Linked DNA regions of Homo sapiens. The protein of the gene in region 1 interacts with the protein of each later gene in a biochemical or structural test. Each region holds a gene or a part of one and is shown in the gene's direction. Other genes may lie near its edges.

Region 1 (7,027 bases):
CCATCCCACAATCCTGGCATCTGGGCCCACTCTTCCTACAGGCCTGCAGCTCCCAGGGCCTCATCCTGCACGGCTCGGGCATGCTCTTACCCTGTGGCTCGGATCGGTTCCGTGGTGTGGAGTATGTGTGCTGTCCCCCTCCAGGGACCCCCGACCCATCTGGGACAGCAGTTGGGTGAGTGGGAGGGAACCCTCCATGCCCATCTCAAGGTTCCTGAGGCAGGGGATGGAAGCCTGGGAGCCCAGGCCTGGGTTCTTACTGCCTGGGTCCTCTCCTGCTCCCTCAGTGACCCCTCCACCCGGTCCTGGCCCCCGGGGAGCAGAGTAGAGGGGGCTGAGGACGAGGAAGAGGAGGAATCCTTCCCACAGCCAGTAGATGATTACTTCGTGGAGCCTCCGCAGGCTGAAGAGGAAGAGGAAACGGTCCCACCCCCAAGCTCCCATACACTTGCAGTGGTCGGCAAAGGTGAGGCAGTCTCTGAACCCCTGGGGCCTCTCCACCATAGAGGGAGAAAGATCTGGGGGAGTCTTGCTGGGGGGTGTCTTTGGGAGGGGCCTATAGGGGAAAGGCCCAACTGAGGAGAAAAGACGAGAGTATCTTTGGATAAAATAGAAGTAGAAGGGCTAACCTGCCAAGGGAGGGGGTGGTTTGGGGGTACTTGGGAGTAGAGGGGCCATTGGGTAGGTCTTGAGGATCATTTCAGGAAAGCTTGGAAGATGGTGTAATGGATTCCTAAGCTTTGCAAGAACAGGCCCAGTCCAGAACTACATCTCCCATAATGCCAGGCAGCAGCGGTGGCTAAACTGGGTGCATGATGGTCTCCAGTGCACTCTAGGAAATGTGGTTCTCTAGGTAGAAAAGGCGACCTGGAGGTGGGCTGCAGACTGACCTCCTGATCCCTGGTCTTGCAGTCACTCCCACCCCGAGGCCCACAGACGGTGTGGATATTTACTTTGGCATGCCTGGGGAAATCAGTGAGCACGAGGGGTTCCTGAGGGCCAAGATGGACCTGGAGGAGCGTAGGATGCGCCAGATTAATGAGGTGATAATACTGGGGGCCCCAGGACCCCCTACAGTACAGAGCTCCCTAAATACCAGGAAATTCCTCCAGGACACATTGATACTACCTCCAAAGGCTCCCTAAGCCCCTTTGACCTTGAGCTCTCAACACCACCCCCTAAGATGGCCAGAGATCCATGGCCCTTCTAGAATCCCACTGAGACGCTACCAGGTTCTCTGGAAACTCTGGTCTATGGTACTCTTTCACTTTATTGGTTTTTTTTTTTTTCTTTTGTTGTTGTTGTTGTGACGGAGTTTCGCTCTTAACACCCAGGCTGGAGTGCAATGGTGCGATCTCGGCCCACTGCAACCTCTGCCTCCCGGGCTCCAGCGATTCCCCTTCCTCAGTCTCCTGAGTAGCTGGGATTACAGGCACCCACCACCACGCCCGGCTAATTTTTGTATTTTTAGTAGAGACAGGGTTTCACCATGTTGGCCAGGATGGTCTTGAACTCCCGGCGGGAGGAGATCCACCCGCCTCGGCCTCCCAAAGTGCTGGGATTACAGGCATGAGCCACCACGCCTGGCCTCTCTTTCACTTTAAACTCCTTCTGGATCTTCCCTCTTGGGAACCCAGGAGCCAGCGAGACTTAAGGGATCTGGGGCCTTTAAATCTTTTTTTTTTTTTTTTTTTGAGACAGAGTTTCGCTCTGTTGCCCAGGCTAGAGTGCAGTGACGTGATCTCCCACTCACTGCAAGCTCCACCTCCTGGGTTCACGCCATTCTCCTGCCTCAGCCTCCCGAGTAGCTGGGACTACTGGTACCCACCACAGCGCCCAGATAATTTTTTCTGTTTTCAGTAGAGACAGGGTTTCACCATGTTAGCCAGGATGGCCTCAATCTCCTGACCTTGTGATCCACCCACCTCGGCCTCCCAAAGTGCTGGGATTACAGGCATGAGCCACTGCGCCCAGCCATGGGGCTTCTAAAATCTTAAAGAGGGGTTGGGGGACTTGCCAGGTGGATCAGGGTGGATTCTGGGATCCTGAAGCTCCCCTCCCTATGCAGGTGATGCGTGAATGGGCCATGGCAGACAACCAGTCCAAGAACCTGCCTAAAGCCGACAGACAGGCCCTGAATGAGGTAGGACAGCCCCAGTGGGTCCTACTCATGCCTGTCCACCACCTGGAGCACACTCAGTTTCACCTGGCTCTGGCTGTGCCCTGCCCATCCAGTTCCACCCCTTCCCACCTATCTCAGCCTTTCCTGGCCCCATGCCTACATGCAGCTCTGCCCCTCTTAGCCGTCATCTGACCTGACACTGCTCTCCTCCCCAGATTGGCCATATTCGGCCCCATCTACAGACTTGACTTGCCTCTCAGGGCTGGCTCTGGAGTCCTGTCCCAAGCCAGGGCCTCTGCAGATGCAGCCAGGGCCTTCTTGGTCTCTCTTTGATGCATTTATGTCTCTATCAGGCCCCGCCCCCTGATTCTGGCTCTGCTGGGCCAATCTCACCTTTATTAACCTGACCTACCCCATGGAGACCCCACTCATGTTAGCCCCCATTCCAGCTCTTTGTCCCACCCCTATCGTGTCATTTATACACAGCCTGTCTCCAGTTTGACCCTGCCCAGGCCAGGAGCCCTGCAAGGCTTTGTCCCTTTCACCTTAACATTGGTCAGTTCTGCTCCCAGATTGCTCCCACTCAATCTTACAGTTTACATCCTCACATTGGCTCCCAGTGGGCCTAGTCCCACCTCCACTCTGCCTGGCCCTGTAGCCCACCCCTTCCAGTCCATAACCTTTGGTTCTGCCCAGGCCTGGACCCCTGGAACGCCCCCCAACCCCATGTAGCCCTGCCTTTCCAGGCTCTCTTTGACCAGGCTTTGACCCATCTTCTCCTCTCCTGACCCTGTGCCCACCCGCTCCCCAGCACTTCCAGTCCATTCTGCAGACTCTGGAGGAGCAGGTGTCTGGTGAGCGACAGCGCCTGGTGGAAACCCACGCCACCCGCGTCATCGCCCTTATCAACGACCAGCGCCGGGCTGCCTTGGAGGGCTTCCTGGCAGCCCTGCAGGCAGATCCGCCTCAGGTGCGGGGACCGTGGGGGCAGAGAGCAGAGGGTGAGAAGGGTCAGGGCGGGCTTGGGCATCCTGTGTCCCTTCCACAGGCGGAGCGTGTCCTGTTGGCCCTGCGGCGCTACCTGCGTGCGGAGCAGAAGGAACAGAGGCACACGCTGCGCCACTACCAGCATGTGGCCGCCGTGGATCCCGAGAAGGCACAGCAGATGCGCTTCCAGGTGCTCACATCCTTCCAGCTCCCAAATGCGCCGCTATTCCTCAGACGCCCGCGCCTCAGGCTCTTCTCTTGTCCCTTAGACCCTCTTTCTGTCTCTTGGACCCCTTCCTATCCCCTGAACACCGCTTCTCTGCCCCTTCCCAGTCTCTCAGCTCAGCTTCCTGACCCTGAAACATGGACCCTCACATGCTGTGTCTTTGACCCCTGCTTCTTGGCCCTTGGATTCCTACTCCCCCCGCCGTCGATCCTATGTTCTGTCCCTTGGATTTTCACTGCCTTTCCCAGAATCGTCTTTTTTTTTTTTTTTTTTTTGAGACAGGTTCTTGCTCTGTCGCCCAGGCAGGAGAGCAGTGTGCGATCTTGGCTCATTGCAACTTCCACCTCCTGGGTTCAAGCAATTCTCCTGCCTCAGCCTCTCGAGTAGCTGGGATTACAGGAGCCTGCCACCACACTGGGCTAATTTTTTTTTTTTTTTTTGACAGAGTCTCGCTCTGTTTCCCAGGCTGGAGTGCAGTGACATGATCTGGGCTCACTGCAACCTCCGCCTACTGGGTTCAAGCTATTCTCCTGCCTCAGCCTCCTGAGTAGCTGGGACTACAGGCGGGTGTCACCACATCTGGCTGATTTTTGTATTTTTAGTAGAGACAGGGTTTCACCATACTGGTCAGGCTGGTCTTGAACTCGACCTCAGGTGATCCACCCTTGGCCTCCTAAAGTACTCGGATTACAGGTGTGAGCCACCACGCCCGGCCCCAGCTAATTTTTGTATTTTTGGTAGACACGGGTTTCAGCATGTTGGCCAGGCTGGTCTTGAACTCCTGACCTCAGGTGATCTGCCTGCCTTGGCCTCCCAAAGTGCTGGGATTACAGGCGTGAGCCACCATGCCCAGCCAGAAACCCCAATAACTTTTGCACCAATCTAATATTTTTAGCAGAGACAGGGTTTTGCCATGTTGCCCAGGCTGGTCTCGAACTCCTGACCTCAGGTGATCTGCCCACCTCGGCCTCCCAAAGTGCTGGGATTACAGGCGTGAGCCACCATGCCCGGCCAGAAACCCCAATAACTTGCACCAATCTAATATTTTTAGCAGAGACAGGGTTTTGCCATGTTGCCCAGGCTAGTCTCAAACTCCTGACCTCAGGTGATCTGCCTACCTCGGCCTCCCAAAGTGCTGGGATTACAGGCATGAGCCACCGCGCCCGGTCGAGAATCTCCTTCTTGTTCCTTGAACCCTCTTCCTGTCCCTCAACCTCCTTTCTCCATAACTTCACTTGTTTTCCCTGGAACCCCTGTTCTGTGCGCTCAAATTTGAATTCCCCTTTCCTGGATGTTTTCTTCCTGTCTATGAAACTCCATTCTGTGCTCTTGAACTCCAAATCTTGCCTTGAACCATGTCATTTCTATATGACCCTCCAATCCTCAATCTCTGTCTCTGGAATCCCCTCAAACCCCACTTTCTGTTCCTTGGACTTTATTCTTCAATTTCCTTCTCCTATGGCCCAGTTCCTAACCCTTGTACCACACATCCTGTCCATTGCATGTGCCGCTTTTCCTCAGTCGCTATTGAATTCCTCCTTCATACTGCTTCAGTTTCCTCATCTCCAGCCTGCATTGCGCAGTTCATCCTTCATGTCCACTCACCCACAGGTGCATACCCACCTTCAAGTGATTGAGGAGAGGGTGAATCAGAGCCTGGGCCTGCTTGACCAGAACCCCCACCTGGCTCAGGAGCTGCGGCCCCAAATCCGTGAGTGTCTATTACCCTGGCTCCCATTACAGATCTCTGAGGGCAGATCTTGACTCCTAAATGTTGGGCCCCCCCAATTTCATTTATTCCTCTATAACAAACAGCCCAGACCTTAGCAGTGAAAATCAACAATGATTTTTCTTTGTTCATGATTCTGCCATCCGGTCTGCGCTCAGCAGAGTGGTTCTTTCAGTGGTCTTGCCAGTGGTCAAGCATGCAGCTGTATTTAGCTAGCAGATCATCTAGGGGCTGGGAGTCTAGCACAAATGGACCTTTCTCTCTCTCCAAGGAAGCGCAAGGCCTCTCTTCTCCGTGGAGCTTCTCCATGTGGTCTCATCAGCAGGGTAGCTAGATTCCCTACATGGTGGTTTATGCTCTCTAAGACATCACAGTGGAAGTTGCTAGGTCTTAAGGCTTGGGCCCACATTCTATTTGTTAAAGCAAGTTACAAATTCAGTCCAGATTCAAGGGAAGGAACCTATATGCATACCGGAAAGTGTGACCTATTGCAGCCCCCACATCTATTGTGTCTTTCTCCTGGATATCTCACACATAACCCTGATTCTCCTAGTATTTAAGAAAGCTATCATCTTGAGGCGCGGTGGCTCACGCCTATAATCCCAGCACTTTAGGAGGCCGAGGCGGGTGGATCACTTGAGGTCAGGAGTTCGAGACCAGCCTGGCCAACATGGTGAAACCCCGTCTTTACTAAAAATACAAAAATCAGCCGGGCATGATGTCGCTTGCCTGTAATCCCAGCTACTTAGGAGGCTGAGGCAAGAGAATTGCTTGAACCCGGGAGGTGGAGGTTGCAGTGAGCTGAGATCGCATCATTGCACTCCAGCTGGGCAACAAGAGTGAGACTCTGTCTCAAAAAAAAAAAAACAAAAAAAAAACATAATCTTGAAACTTCAGCCTCCATCCTTCCTGCCAGCAGTGCCTCCATCCAGCTTCCCACTTTCTCAGATCACACTTCTGGCTACCCCACACTTGGGGCTGACTCTGCTGTCTGCATGATCTCCCACTTGCTCTACTGGTAGGGTGCCCTCCACTCACCCCTATGCTCACTACCTCAGCCACCTTTCTGCATGTCCCCCTCAGAGGAACTCCTCCACTCTGAACACCTGGGTCCCAGTGAATTGGAAGCCCCTGCCCCTGGGGGCAGCAGCGAGGACAAGGGTGGGCTGCAGCCTCCAGATTCCAAGGATGGTGAGTGAGCCCACATATAGATGACCCCAGACATTAGGGAACAGGCCCCAGCCTAATTTGTAATCCCCTAGAGTCTGAGGGTGTCTTCACCACCACAGTGACTGGGAGAGGATGAGGAGGAACGTCTAAGGTTGCAGGGGCCTCTGTAGGATCCCCAATCCTCCTTCTTAGTCCCTGGAAGGATGTTTCTCCACCTTTCTTTGCTGATACCCTCCTCTCTTCACTGTTCCACTCCCTTGCTTCCTCTGGCTGCCAGCAGACACCCCCATGACCCTTCCAAAAGGTGAGTGTCTCACAGTTAACCCCAGCCTCCAAATCCCACTGAATCCCTGAACCCAGAAGGAAACAGGGTCCATCCATTGGGAACCTCAGACCCCCTGGGGTAGAGTTTGATGTACTTTCCAGCCCCCTCCTCTGGACCCTAAAGAATGAGATAGGGCCAGGCGCTGGTGACTCACACCCGTAATCCTAGCACTTTCAGAGGCTGAGGCAGGAGGATCCCTTGAGGCCACGAGTTCTAGACCAGCCTGGGCAACATAATGAGACCCTGTACCTACAAATAATTTAAAAATTACCTGGGTGTGGTGGGGCATGTCTGTAGTCCCAGCTGCTCAGGAGGCTGACGTAGAAGGATCACTGGAGCCCAGGAAGTTGAGGCTGCAGTGAGCTGAGATCATGCCACTGCACTCCAGCCTGGGTGACAGAGTGAGACTCTGTCTAAAGAAAAAAAAAAAGAATGAGATCAGACTTGGGGGTAGGGTCCACAGAACAA
Region 2 (7,155 bases), on another chromosome or scaffold:
TGCATATCTAAAGGAATCTACTGGATGAAAACTAAGTAAACTTTACCTTTAAATTAGTAAGATTTCAACTTTTACTTCTATTTTCTAAAATCTTAATTAACTGCAAATGTTTATGGTTTGCATAAATAGTTGGACCAAAATGTCACAAAGGGTGAGCATAAATTCCACCTACAGGAGATTAGATATTTGCAGCTTCTGTAAGTAAGAGTTGGTACTGTGACCACCAAAAGCTTGACCACCACAGTTGAATTAGAGCTCCTCTCTCATACTTCTTAATGGTTTTGGTTGCCGATGTTATCAAGACATCCACAAAGTAGACTATGTTCTTTAGCGTTGTTTACTGAAGCAGCTGTTAAATTAATTAAGTTGGTATATTTTCCAAGTCTGATTAAGATATGTTTACTTCTGCTTTCACAAAACAGCTGTGATATGAGTACTGAGACACATCTTCTAAGAAACTCAAAATATAATTAAAATCATATTTTGTCCAGTTCAAGTAAAAGTTTACTTTTGCTTCTTCATGTGTTACTTTGCACTTATAGGGAATACTGGCATATATTGAAAATGCAAGATTTTGATTCCTTTAATTTTTATCTTAGTACTTACCCATTCACCATTATTGGTAACACATTAACATAGAGGATTAAAACATCAAAACAGAAAATGCAAATGCTAAAAGAAGCTCCAGTAGGCAAGGCAGATGATCCAAGAAAGATGACTGATCTAGACATGAATTCACCATTGGTCTGCTTCCCTACAGTTATGCTATGATTTGATGGAACATAATAATAGTTATGATCTGTTAACTAGAACCTAGAACTTATCTGAGTCAAATGAAGGGAAAGAGAAAGGAGGGCATGATTTCAATAAAAATCTGTTACACAAATAAGACAAAAGCTCAGAGGCACCTCAACTGCTACAGATGTGCTGCATCTGCTTGCTTGCCCATTGGGGACGATGAGATAAAGAGATTAAGACATTTACACAAAGATGGCTAGACAACAAGATCAGATCAGCAACATGACAGCTAGGTTGAGGTGTCATAACCATAGCATAGAGAAAGTGACCTACTGAACCACTTACCCCACTTACAAACAATGTTTTAATTAACTTAATGTACAAATGATATTTTACCAGGGTACAGGATGAGCTGGTTAATTCAAAAATGTCATTAGCATCAAACAGAGAAAACCAGTGATCTTTTAATAATGCCATTTTATTAAGAAAACAGCATTGGAATTTAATAATGGGGCATACATACTTTTATATCTTTTAAAGACAAATCTTACATCAAAACAACTATAACTTAAAATCCCATTCTCACATGTCAATAGTAGAAAATCTTGGTCATGGTATGTGAAAAGATTTGATGTTTACTTGGAAAACACAAGGTAGTTTGTTTCTTTTTAGTGGAACTCTAACAAGGAGTTTTGTTTGTTTGTTTCTTATTTTAAGCACTGTTGTTTCTCTAATTCCAGACATTGACCTGCTTAAACCTGAACACTGTGGATATAAAAGGATACAGAAGTGTACCTGATCTATAGAGCCCTTACTCTCCAAGCAGAAAATTGTAAAAATATACAGTACATAAGTTAACTCCATAACAGCAAAATTCTAAAGAAAGATGAGTCAGATAGACTAACAGTTTGTCTGTTACATATATAGATATTAATAGGGAATATATAATTGTATATTATTACAAATTAGAACATTAAAAGTCATAAAAGACATGAGAATAAATATAGTCACTCTTTCTGGGTCCTGAATGAAGTGTAGCCAGGTAACCTAGTCACCCCCAAATAATGATTGAAGTCAACATTTTAAATTTGAACTGACAGAAATAGACCTTACTATTTTTAATTAAACAGATTCAACGTTTCCTTTCTCTCCCTCTAAAGCATCAGATAACTTCGCAAGGAAAAGTGCTATTACATTATCTACTTGTTTCAAAAATATATTCACACCATAGTCTTGTGATAATATTGCTCTCTTTATAAAAAGTAGAAACATTAAAAGCTTTTATTTAGTTCTTGCTTAAGAAAGGAGAAATATTTAGTCCATTTACATCATGTAAAAGGTAAATTTTCTTGTTCATGTTAATGGTAGGAGGGCACCATGAATCATGTGACCGATAGCATTTCCTTCTTTACATTGGCTGCTAACAAAGTTAATGGCAGACCTAGCACCATTTGTAACAAAAACATCAATGCAGTTTTCTCTATAAACCTCATTTCTGGCTTCATCTTATCTCTCCTCCTATCACTTTACCGTTTGTCTTGATCTCACTGACCTACATTTTTTATTCATTTTTTTAAACTGAATAGATTTTTATAAGCCAACTTACATCCTTTCTAGGGCAAAGCTAGTTGAAAGAAATTATGTGACATAATGACTCAAAATGCCCAAATTATCGGATCATGGGTAATATAGAATGGTGTTCTAAGAAGGGAAGAGAACTTTCAGAAAGCTTTCTACACTCCCGATCCCTCTTTCAGGCTGCATGTGCTCAATTATACACTTTTAAAGGCAAAAACCTCATCGAACAATAAAAAGAATGCGTTAGAGCTCCTACACTTTGAATTTATTTTGTGATGTATTTAATGTGGTTATAAAAGTCCTGGTAGTTCTCTCTGTGAACCGACAGCCTGACAGAGGAGAAGAGCCAGTGGGGCAGAGAAAAAGCCACAGAAGGGGAATCTCCACAACGATCCCTCAGTTAACACATAAAGAAGATAACCTAGTTACTGGAAAGCAGGAACACGAATATAAAAAGTATGGAAGAGTGGAGAAGTATTAAATGCACACAAATTTGTCTTTGCTACAGAACAAGCAATCAGCCTAGATCCTGAGGATAGCGATTAAAAGCAGAGACTGGGTGTTTGTACATCATTGGATGAATGAGAAGCAGCCAAGAAACAGGAAAAGACTAATTTTAATTACCAGAAAAACTGCAAGAGAAAGAACACAGGGCTAGTGGTAGACGGCTTCCAGCTACAGGCTGCCTGGCACTGTACTCTCCTTGCCAATTAGAGCCAGTCAGACCCCATCGGGGGATTCAGTGAGCAGAAGAATCAGCGTCAGTCCAGGGTCAGGCTGCTCTCAAACACACATGAAAAACGGACACCAGCGGACACGGGGTGCGACCCTAGACTCCCATGCAGTTTCTTATACAGACACAGAGATAGAAAGCAGTACGTGGGATTTCCTTTCCATTAAATACAGGTGCAAACCACATTCTCTATGGAAATATATTGCAAAGGAAATGTTATATAATTTATTTAACAAATACCCAATTACCATCAGCCCAATCGTGGGAATTGGAAAACGACTCAAAGACTGAGAGGAAAAAAAAAAAAAAAGTAGAGAGGAGGACTGGCAGAACAATGGCACTAAAGCTGCCACACTGTGGATTTACTACCTGTGTTATTTTTCCAATTACAGCCATTGTAATATAAAAATTCCGAAAAAAAGGTTGCTGAGACCATTCCTTCGCTTTTTTTTAGAACTGAGTCAACACCCCAAATCAAAGAGAAATATAAACAGGCAGAGCCTGATAGTCCTTAGATGAAACGCGTAAGTGCAGAAACAAAAGAGAAGTGCTTCCCATTCAGGACTTAAGAAAATTCTGCAAAGTGAAAAAGTCCACTCTCAAACCGACCTAAGTGAACGCGTCAGTCTGTGCTGCTGCTGTCAGAGGTGTGAGCCGGGGACTACAGGAATCAGAGTGAAGACAGGAGCGGAGGAAGGGACTCTCGCCTGGATCTCCCGTGCCGACTCCAGCCAGCACGTTTGCTTTGTAATCTATGAATGTTAAATACGGAGGGGTTGCAGAGCAGAAACGCTCGGGGAAGGGGGGCAGGTCCTCTGTACTTAGCAGGGAAGGAAAATGCCGGTTGACTAGTGAGACGAGTGGAGAAACACAGAGCACCCTCCGGGAGGCGCACAGTTCGTTAAGCCCAGGGACATGCTCAATGAACCTTTGCAGCAAGAGGCAGTGAGGCGCTGGACGCGGGCGCCGGTGACAGCGCGGGCGGCCGGGGAGGGGCGAGGGGCCGCCCCGGGAGGACACAGCCAGTCAGAGGCGCGGGGCGCAGGGCGCGCGGACGCATTGGAGGAAAACACGCGAGCCCCAAACACACCAGCCGCAGGAGGCGCCGCACCTACTTCCCAATATAACCAACTACGGCGTGGGGGAGCGGAACTGCGAGAAGGCGGCAGCCAAAGTGCCATTAAAGCTCGGGGCGGAGAGGATGCGTTACCTGGGTCCCGTCTGCTGCGAGAGGCAGGGCAAGCTGGAGGATTCCCTCTGAATGATTAAGAACTCCGCAATTCGCCTCTGCCACAGGCTGCAAAGGACCCGAGGAACCGCTCTCTCTGAACTGTGCTGATGGGCAGGAGGATGGGAGACAGGAATTGAGAGTCACAGAGGAAGGACAGTGGAGTCTGGCATCTTATTGGTAAGTGGCTGACATTCCTTTGCCAGTGACTGCGTTCTGTGATTGTGCACTTCATCTCCCAGCCACTTAGGATTTTTGACACACTCTGTTCTGCAAAGCCATCCTTTCTTGCCATGTTGCCAGAATGTAAAAACTGTAAGATGAAGCTTTTTTAAATAAAGGAAACAAAACACGACTTTATTTCCTGCTGGGATTTTATGGCAAAAAGTTGAAACAAGAGTAAATATAACCTATTTGTATATCTCCTAATGCCACCCAAAATAAGAGTAAGCAATTCCTACACGCAAATTGCAAATTGTAAGGCAATAAATGCCAGGATAAAGTGAGGATGTTTCTACAAAAGAAACTAAATGTTTGGAAAATAGGATGCCGTTCTCAGGTACTGAATGTATGCCTTATGTTTGAGCAATGAGTTTCCGAGACTAAATAATTGGGCATCTGGCATTGCAATAACTTGTTAAAATTCAGTAGGGATGCTCTATAAGTGGAGTTCTACAAAGTTCGTGAGACTGAGAAAAACTGTATCTTGGATTATGCTGAGCTTTTTTCTAAAGGTTGTATAGGATTGTGATAGATTAAAAAATTATGTTCAGACATCCTTACCATGTTTTGTAGGGAGATATACGGAAGAGAATATCAATTTGCACATACACAAACCTGAGAATTACTCTGATGACCTGAACAATAAGTTGTTTCAACTATATTTATTTGCGAAAGAACCAGAATCCACTAAATATTTTAGAATTATATTACTTTTAAATCTTAGAACTGTTCTCCCAAGAAAAATACAATTTCATGTGGTAATTTAAATGCAGGTGAGAAGCAAAAAACTTTTAAACTGTTGTATGTTCAATGCCTTACCTACATTTCATTCATTTGTTTCTTAATTTAAAAGAGAAAATCATTTAGAGGGTCAATACTTCTACTTTGATTCTCAATTACGACTGTGGAAATAAGGATGAAAGAAGTAGATGTTCATTAGAATACTAGCATTTAAAATTATAGACAAATAGTCAAATTTAAAAATTAATGCAGATATCATCGATTACTGTTGAATTGCAACAGAATTACAGAAGTACTTATGACCATTACAGGGAGCTTAAAGGAGTTCATTATGATTAATATTGTGACTCTCAGTATTTTAAAAAATAATGATTAGGTCATTAACTGTTTTTGAAAATGCCTGTAGTCAATTTTGAGCAATTCTCATGGTTGCTTGCATATTCTCCTATTTCATGCTCAAATTATTCTAAGTTAAGTGGGGACTAGTATGCTGAGTCTTAAACTTAACAGGCATAAGTTTACTCTGACTCTAATCGAAAAGAGGTATGAGTAAGAATATGTCATATAAAACTAATGATAACAAATTAAAGATATTACATAAAAAGATCATCTAAGTCCATTAAAGGGAAAAAGGCAAAAAAAATCAGAGTTAAAGTTATAAAAAGGGAAATTCAATATAAAGAATAGAATTTGACAAATAGCTGGAGTGTGAGGGAATGATATTAAAGCCTATCTGAAAATAGAAAGTCAGTGAAATGATTATTACAAGTGCCAGTGTTTTTGCTTAGGAATTGGTGTATCCTTTAAATTATTTAAAACTTCTGAAAATTGAGAAAGGAGGAGAAAAACTGCTAATTTTAATTTCTTTCTGATTCCATAGACAACTGAACAGAAAGTTAGATTCTTAAAAGTTATATAAAAATATAATCCCATAGATTAACTAAATGCCGGACTTTGTCTATAAGTTGTGAGGCACATGCACACCAAGGTGCTTTTGGAAATACATCCAAAAAGCTACAGTTGTGGAATTTTTAAATGAATAGCTGAAATACCTGAATGTTTCTCAAGGTGAGCAGTTAGTACTTCAAGTATTAGGTGGTCTGAAACAATTCTTAGTCAGGGAGCCAACCTGAAATCAAATCATGAATCTATACATAGAATATGTTTATGTAAGATGAATCATTAAAATTAGTAGCATGTAAAAATTTACTTCAATCTTATGTGTCCAATTAAGTAGCGCTATCTGTTAGAAATGTACCAGGTTTGGCTGATATGTATTTCTTTAAATGTCTCTTTTACTTCACAGTTTAGAAAATCTTGACCACTTTCAGGGTAGAGGTAGGAGTGTGATTGTCTGTCACAGCTGACTTAGCAATATGGACCAGAGGGTGCCAGTAAAGGGCAAAGGGCCCGCATAGGCTGGCCAAAGCATTTTGGAGTTTGTCTTACTTCTAGACAAAATAAAGGCATAATTTGTGAAGATTAAAATAAAAATGATGAAAACTTCTCTAGATGGCTGTAATACTGTGAAGATGATTTGACTGTAGAGAGTTTGATTGGCTAAAACAAAGTTGTAGCAGAGTTTAGTGTCTCCTTCATCAGTCAAAAACTAATCCAGAATTTTATGAGGCTCAGATATTTACAATATTGTAATTTGCCGAATCCATTCTTTCTCATGTATCTTGATTACCTATTGTCTTTGAACTTTCTTTTAAAATACGGGTTTTTAAATTTTTACCAAGTCGTTGGAAATTTATTTCTCTTACTTTAAATAATAAACTCATACATTCATGTAGTTTGTTTTCTTGAAATTCTGACTCCAGGAGTTGATTTTATCTCTCTTTCTTCTTTCTGACAATCCAAGCATAAAGTAAGAGAGTAATATGTTTCTCACAAGATGTTAAGAACCGTGTTG
Region 3 (7,027 bases), on another chromosome or scaffold:
AATTATATTTGTGATATTTATTCCAAGTGTTGCATGGAGTTATTGTTCATATATTCTTATTACTGTATAATATTATCTTGCATGAATTCACCAGATTTTAGGTTTTCTGACTCTGAGTCAGAGTTCTTTTTCTCAACCATTCTTTTTGGTATAAACTGGGTTAATAGGATTGACTTTTTATTCCTAATGCCCTGCTAAGGCCTGCTATATTGGAGAACAGTAGATATCTGGCTGGGTAAAAGGGAGAAGGACAACCTTGTTAGTTTCATGTGTGGAACACTTTGGAAAGCAGAGAAAGATTGCTTTCCCTCCTTTACTGCAAAGTGAGGTTGCCGGAGCAGCAGGAAGACCCTGAAGGGCTCTTGCTACAACAGCTGCCAGTTTTAACAACTGCAGAACAAACTCAACCTACCTTGCTAGTATTATTTTCCTCTATGGTTTATTCAATACTATTGCAAGAGAAAAGCATCATCAGGATAGGCCTGAGAATAACCATAATGTTTGAGATGCATTTGTTTCATACAACCCGATAAGTGACTTTAGAGCTCACAACTTATCACATGACTGACTGAAATTTCATGAAACATTATACCAATATGACAGCATGATTTAAAGATCAGTTTGAGGTTAAAACCAATGTTTCTGGATGTCTGTATAATTTGCAATTGGCTTGCTAATTTTTGGAAACATCAAGCATTTGCATTTGCATCGTGAATGGGAATTAGTCATCATGTTTTATTTCTTCTAGGTCCTTAGCATGTTCTCTTCTCTGCTGGCCTTTTCTCATGTTCTTCACTCTACTTGGAGTGCTTTTATCCCTGCTTGTTGGGGTGTTCTCCTGTCCTTTAAGGCCTGTTCTTCAGCCATGAAAGAATGGCACCTGTCCTTCCTCTAAAACTCATGGGAGCTCTCATCTAACCCTTCTCCTTATCTCATTGTTATTTGCATATTGATTTACTGTTCCCTTTACCAAAAAGAAAGACCTTCACCATAGGAATTATCTCTTAAATATATTTAAACTTGTTATTCATTAAATTTATTTTGATTCCATGTTTTCCAAAAGTTTTTTTTTTTTTAAACTCTATTGGGAAAGCACTACAGTAATGAATCAATACAGTAGAGTTAATGCAACTAAGAGAAAATAGGGCTCAGGAAAGCAGGAAGCCAATAAGCCAACCACAGTAACCGTGCTTAAATCTCAACTTGGCACTGAACAACCTGGGCCTCCAGAACAAAGTGGCATATTATTATCTAGCCCTCATTATCATAAAAGAGAAGAACAATGGTTCCTTTGCAGAAAACTGATTCACCTTGGCCATAAAGTTCAAGAAAACTCTCATACTGTACTTTACATAGATGTTAGTCAGTAGCATAATTGTATCCTTAACTAACTCCATGAATCTTTATTGAGGCCCTACTAAGTGCCTTTGAGTGTTTCATTTTGCTAATTTGGAGGAGGGGGAAGGGCAGGTGAAATAAAAACTAACATCGCTTGTTTAACAAGTGATAGGAGGACAGACAAGTAAGCAGAATGTTACATACTGATAAGCGTTTTAGTTGAAATAAGCTTAGAATTACTCTGTATAGGAGCATCAACCCAGAGAAGGAGGATTAAAGGAGAGTTCACTTGAGGAGGTGATTCCTGATGTTGGAACCAAGCTTTGAAAACCATTTGAAGGTTATCTCAAAGAATGTGGTTGGTGTTGAAAGTAGAGAAAGCCAAAGACAGGACAGAGACAACAGGAGTTGTAGGCCCCAGAAGCAGCACGTGCAAAAGACTCAGGGACAAAAGAGAGCATGGGGCTTCTCCGAGGCTAAGGTTTTGAGCAGGACCTTAACCATGAAGGGCCTCATATTCAGGTTAAGCAATTTTGCATGATGCCTGAGAGGTTAAAGAACTTCGCCAAGTTTGATGTCAGGAATTGACATGATTAGATTGTTAATTTTGAAATATCATGGTAGAGGCAGGATGGAGATATGAACTAAAACTGAGCAAGACCAGAGAAGCTTGTTAGAAGGTGTCTGAAGCAGAGATATTATGACAGTAATAATATTGCTCCCACCAGGATGCTAATCAACGGTGTCCTCTATAATAATAAAGAATAAATTGAGAGTTATTTCACTTAACTGCTTCTCTTCATGGCCTGCAACAAAAACACTCAGCACTACTTGGAAGTAAAGTTGATGTTTGTATAGATACATTAAGGACACAATGGAAAACTGTCCTTAATGATGGAATTTCTTTCTCTCTTCAACAATTTTATTAGAACTGTCATATGCTTGGATCTTCAATGAATACCCATCGTTTGTTGAAGAAGATAGTCGGAGATTTGTCTCCCAGGAGACAGGGCACCTCTACATATCTAAGGTGGAGCCGTCTGATGTGGGAAATTACACATGTGTGGTGACAAGTATGGTGACAAATGCCCGAGTGCTGGGCTCTCCAACTCCTTTGGTGCTACGTTCTGATGGTAATGAAACTTCTCCAAGTGCACTTCTGAGCGTAAATGGTGCTGAGGCTGCAAACAAAAGCAATTGGGAAAATGTAAAAAGTACATCTAGAAGAATTGTCACTTCATGTTTTTTGGCACAGACTATTTTATGAGTACAATGACAAAAATGATTTGATAACTCATAGTCCTTATGCATAATTCTTACCCCGGGCAAGCTTCATAATTTGCAGGGACCAGTGCAAAGTAAAAATGAGTGGCCCCTTTTTCAAAAATCATTAAGAATTTTAAGACAGCAATGGCAAAGACTTATACCAAGCATGAGACCCTTCTGAGCCCGGGGCTCGGGTTGCACTCCCATGAAGTCACCTGTCCTGACTTTTGCCAGCTTGAGGTTTTTAAAGCTCTGGATATTTTGTTATAGGCTAAAAATCATCACTAAAGAAACCATTAAAGAAAAATATCTGTTTCATCAACACCTTGATGGCTGTTTAAGGGGAGTCTATGAGCTGCCGAGGAAGCAGATCCGTAAGCCTGGGTAGTTGACCCATTTACACAAAACCATATCTGATACAGCATAATGCTATGACCACAAAGCATTGAAGCACTTTTTTCCAGTCAGTTATAATTGAATTTGACCTTTCCCATTTATTAAGTCATTGTTTCTTAACTCCAGGGAGCCATTTAATAAGTTTAAGATTGGTATCTCTGCTACTAGGGTATCATTAAGTAAATTCCCTGCCATAATTTTTGTTCTTTAGGGAAATTTCAGGAAGCAATAATATATTATATATTTCAGTTTGACTAGCAATGTCAAAATTGAATACACAATTTCAAAGCCTCCCATTTTGTGTAATGTAAAGGCTCAGTGGTTTTCTTGGAACTGCTCTGTACGTGGTAACCTATGAATCAGCAAATCCAAAGTTCTTAAATGTTTATTAATATTGCATGTTTGACCCAAGTTAGTTCAGGTTTTTTAAAGCTCTGGATGTTTTGTTAGAGGCTAAAAAGCACCACTAAAAAAATTATTAAAGAAAAAATCTGTTTCATCAACAACTTGATGGCTGTTAAAAGGGAATCTGAGCTGCATAGACTAAATTTTATTTAATTGAAATCACTAGAAGAGCTGGTTCAAAATGGGAGCAAAAGAAAGTTTTATTTAAGAAAAACGAGGCAATTCTAAAGGAAATATTGAAACGATTAACTTTATATTGTGGATTTATAGGTGTGATGGGTGAATATGAACCTAAAATAGAAGTTCAGTTTCCAGAAACTCTTCCAGCAGCTAAAGGTTCGACTGTGAAATTGGAATGTTTTGCCCTTGGAAAGTAAGTTTTATAACATTTACTCCTATGTGCTGAAATATTAGGTTGCTATAAGAAATCAGGATGGTTTTTGAGAGACTCTTCTTTTTTATTTTCTAAAATTTACTTTCATTTTGAGGCAAAGGAAAAACAAAATGCAGGGGAAATGCACATATAAAATTGAGTTTGAAACTTTAATATTCAAAGTCGATTTGAAGAAAATTACTCTGCCTGCCGAATTTCATAAAATAAATTGGTGGGTTTTTTTTTTTCTTGTTCATTTGCTGTAATCTAATATGGTGGGTCTGTATTAGGCTTTTTTCTCGAAATCATGTCAAGAAAAATGCAGTTTATTTTATTAAAATATCAACTTAAAGAGTTAAGTTAAATCTTTTTTATCAGGTTTATATAATTGACCATTGAAAGTGGTTTTCTGCATTTAAAATCCTGTGCCTTCTTGTTCAATCTTAAAAGCTTTATTTTCTCAAGTTGAAAAGGCTTCCAGACAATAGCAGACAACTTGACGATTTTCTTCTTAGTCCCATACCTCAGATTAATTGGAGAAGAAGTGATGGGCTGCCATTTTCCAGCAAAATTAAATTAAGGAAGTTCAGTGGTGTGCTTGAAATCCCCAACTTCCAACAGGAAGATGCAGGTTCCTATGAATGCATTGCTGAGAATTCACGAGGAAAAAATGTTGCCAGAGGGCGTCTCACTTACTATGGTGAGCATCTGCTTTGGGCAAATTGGAGTTTTAGCTTTTACTTTCTCATCTATAAAATATGGTTGTTATTTAGGGGTGAGAGATTATAGCAGAATCCCAATGTTCAACTTGTTGGTTAAACATTTTGTTAAGTGATGATAAACATTGATCATAGGGGGAATTAAAAAGAAATAAATTTTTGTAATGAAGTTGGCGACATAATATATTCATTTTGCATTTTAAAATGATTCATGCAAAGATAAAATATTTCATATTTTTTTCCTAAGAATAACCTCTCACACACTTAAACACATTAGAGAGAGATCTCTTTTCTGTCTGTCTTCTCCTCTAGAAAACAGGTTTTGTATCTTTCTTTGTTACCTCTACTAAAGAGAAAAAAAAAAAACTGCCTTTTGGGAAAAGTTGCAATTACTGTATTAAACAAACCACGTGAACTCTGGCTCTTGTTGAGTTCTTCAGTGTTATTCTATCCCTTCCAATAATGTATCTGTACTCTGTTTGCTGCCTTTAATTTGCAATCACTTTTATTTGATGTACTGCTCAATTTGGGTAAGGAAGGAATAATAATGTCACCTTTATTTAGAGTCTATTTGTAGGAAAATTAGATTGCCTTTTTTTGAAATTTTTTTCAAACCTCTTATTTTAAGAAAACTAGGTTTTTGATGAAAACATGACTTAGAATAAATATATAATTTTTCAAAACGGATTTATAAAATATATGGAGACGTATATATTCAGCTCAGTGAATATATATTTGCACTTTAATCATTAGAAACATCGCAAAACTAGTGGGAATTGACCACTCTTGTCAAAGGTAAATTGCATTATATTCTATTTATTTTAGAATTTGGAAATTGAAACATCTTGCAACACGTCCTTGGATAGCATATGTGCATGTTGCAAGGAAGAAAAGTTTGCAAAGGCAAATACTAAAATTGTAGGTCTTATGACACCCCGCCTTGAAAAATATGAAGTCTACCAGTGCATTACTTCTGGCACGATTAACACTTGTTATTATATTGTAAGATTTTAGGATCTGTCAGAAACAAAATGGAGGCATTGTTTGGTAGCATGAGTCATTCTGTTTTGTAACTCTCCCATCTTGTTGCTTGATTAGTTTAGAATGTATATAGCACAGAACTTACCCAGGTTTCAAGGTCTTTGGGTTCCTAGGATTCTATGGAAATAGGGGGTGAGGGAGCAAGCACTTAACCCATGTGGCTGTCCAGCTCTAAGGCCCCAACAAAGCAAGTAACCTTTTCTCATACTCTAGCTTAGTTCCTTCTTTCTGCGCAACCACTACTTGATCTAGGATAAGAAGTGACCATTATGGGAACACACCGGATATTCCAACTGTATTAATGTTTTAGTAGAAATATTTTTAGCTCTATATAACAGAAACCCTGTATACATAATAAACAATTGTATGCTTCATATGATGAGGAAATCCAAAGCTAAATTGTCATTTAATTACCTTATCATCAGGCCACGACCCAGTTTCTTTGTGATTACTTTTTCTGCCCTTGTCTATTTTTTTTTTCCTTTTCTGCATGTTAGTTTCCATTATGATCACAAAATGGCTGCCAGCAGTGACTAGCACATCAGTTGTTACTCATCCTTCCTTTCTCCAAAACATCTAGAAGTCCTCTCCTCAAACCTCACTGGCTACATGGTTCATTCCTAAACCAATCAGTGGCAAGGAGAAATTAGATTAGACAATTAAGTGCTTCACTTTGGAACAGAGAATAATGTCATGTTTCTATAGACAATGTGAGGTGATGGAAGAGTGGACAACTGAATTAAAAATTGGTGTTATTTTAGGAATAAGGAAGAGAGGAAATGAATGCACAATAGAAAACCAACAGTGTCTGCTCTACTTAGTAAAAGAGGTAGACTATTGCTTTAGTCCATTGTGTAGGTAATATGATACATACCTAAAAAATAAATCAGAAATTAATGGCATAAAGCATTTCATGAAAGTTGCCTTACAATTTCTATTTAACATCAATATATTAAGTAGAGGCCATGCAGTTCTCTGGTTATCTGCTCTAATATTTCATGTAAAAAATAGTCTATAGAATATTTGCATCTCATATGATGGAATAAAGGGAGAAATCAGAATTGATGTGGCAGTTATGATTTCAGGATTTTTTAGTCCAGCGAATTATCCTCCCATTTGGAGAAGAAGAGTATTACTATGGGAAGCTTGTGGGATTTTTTTTTTTTTTTTAGAAACTCGGGTCTCTATAAGAGGCTGATGTGTGAGTCTATTCACAGTCATGTTCCATCTCAGGCTGATCATTCCTGAAAGAAGAAGAAAATGTGTTTTAATATAGAGAGAAGTGATTTGGTACTGAACTACACTTCATACTGAGCAAGTTATATATATATATATATATATATATATACACACACACACACACACACACGCACACACACATAAAAGAGAAAACTTAGATGAATACATTATCTGTAAAAGCTAAATAACCATAGTTTCTTTTCAGTTTCATTTATAAAAAAGTAATTTTATGAGCTAGAAATGGAAAGAC

Evidence for each region. The genes of interacting proteins can lie anywhere in the genome.
Region 2: the proteins of APLP1 (region 1) and CNTN5 form a complex in vitro, tested with the Homo sapiens proteins (one study listed by IntAct).
Region 3: the proteins of APLP1 (region 1) and CNTN3 form a complex in vitro, tested with the Homo sapiens proteins (one study listed by IntAct).

The regions. Positions count from the first base shown.
Region 1 is NC_000019.10:35,871,571-35,878,597, forward strand, and holds part of APLP1 (amyloid beta precursor like protein 1 isoform 1 precursor), read left to right. Parts: intron 1-41; coding exon 42-175; intron 176-287; coding exon 288-466; intron 467-912; coding exon 913-1,043; intron 1,044-2,068; coding exon 2,069-2,143; intron 2,144-2,933; coding exon 2,934-3,092; intron 3,093-3,170; coding exon 3,171-3,299; intron 3,300-4,946; coding exon 4,947-5,046; intron 5,047-6,147; coding exon 6,148-6,255; intron 6,256-6,511; coding exon 6,512-6,538; intron 6,539-7,013; coding exon 7,014-7,027. UniProt on the Homo sapiens protein: May play a role in postsynaptic function. The C-terminal gamma-secretase processed fragment, ALID1, activates transcription activation through APBB1 (Fe65) binding. Couples to JIP signal transduction through C-terminal binding.
Region 2 is NC_000011.10:99,016,814-99,023,968, forward strand, and holds the start of CNTN5 (contactin-5 isoform 1 precursor), read left to right. Parts: upstream 1-4,135; 5' UTR 4,136-4,457; intron 4,458-7,155.
Region 3 is NC_000003.12:74,366,640-74,373,666, reverse strand, and holds part of CNTN3 (contactin-3 precursor), read left to right. Parts: intron 1-2,267; coding exon 2,268-2,471; intron 2,472-3,675; coding exon 3,676-3,778; intron 3,779-4,293; coding exon 4,294-4,478; intron 4,479-7,027. UniProt on the Homo sapiens protein: Contactins mediate cell surface interactions during nervous system development. Has some neurite outgrowth-promoting activity.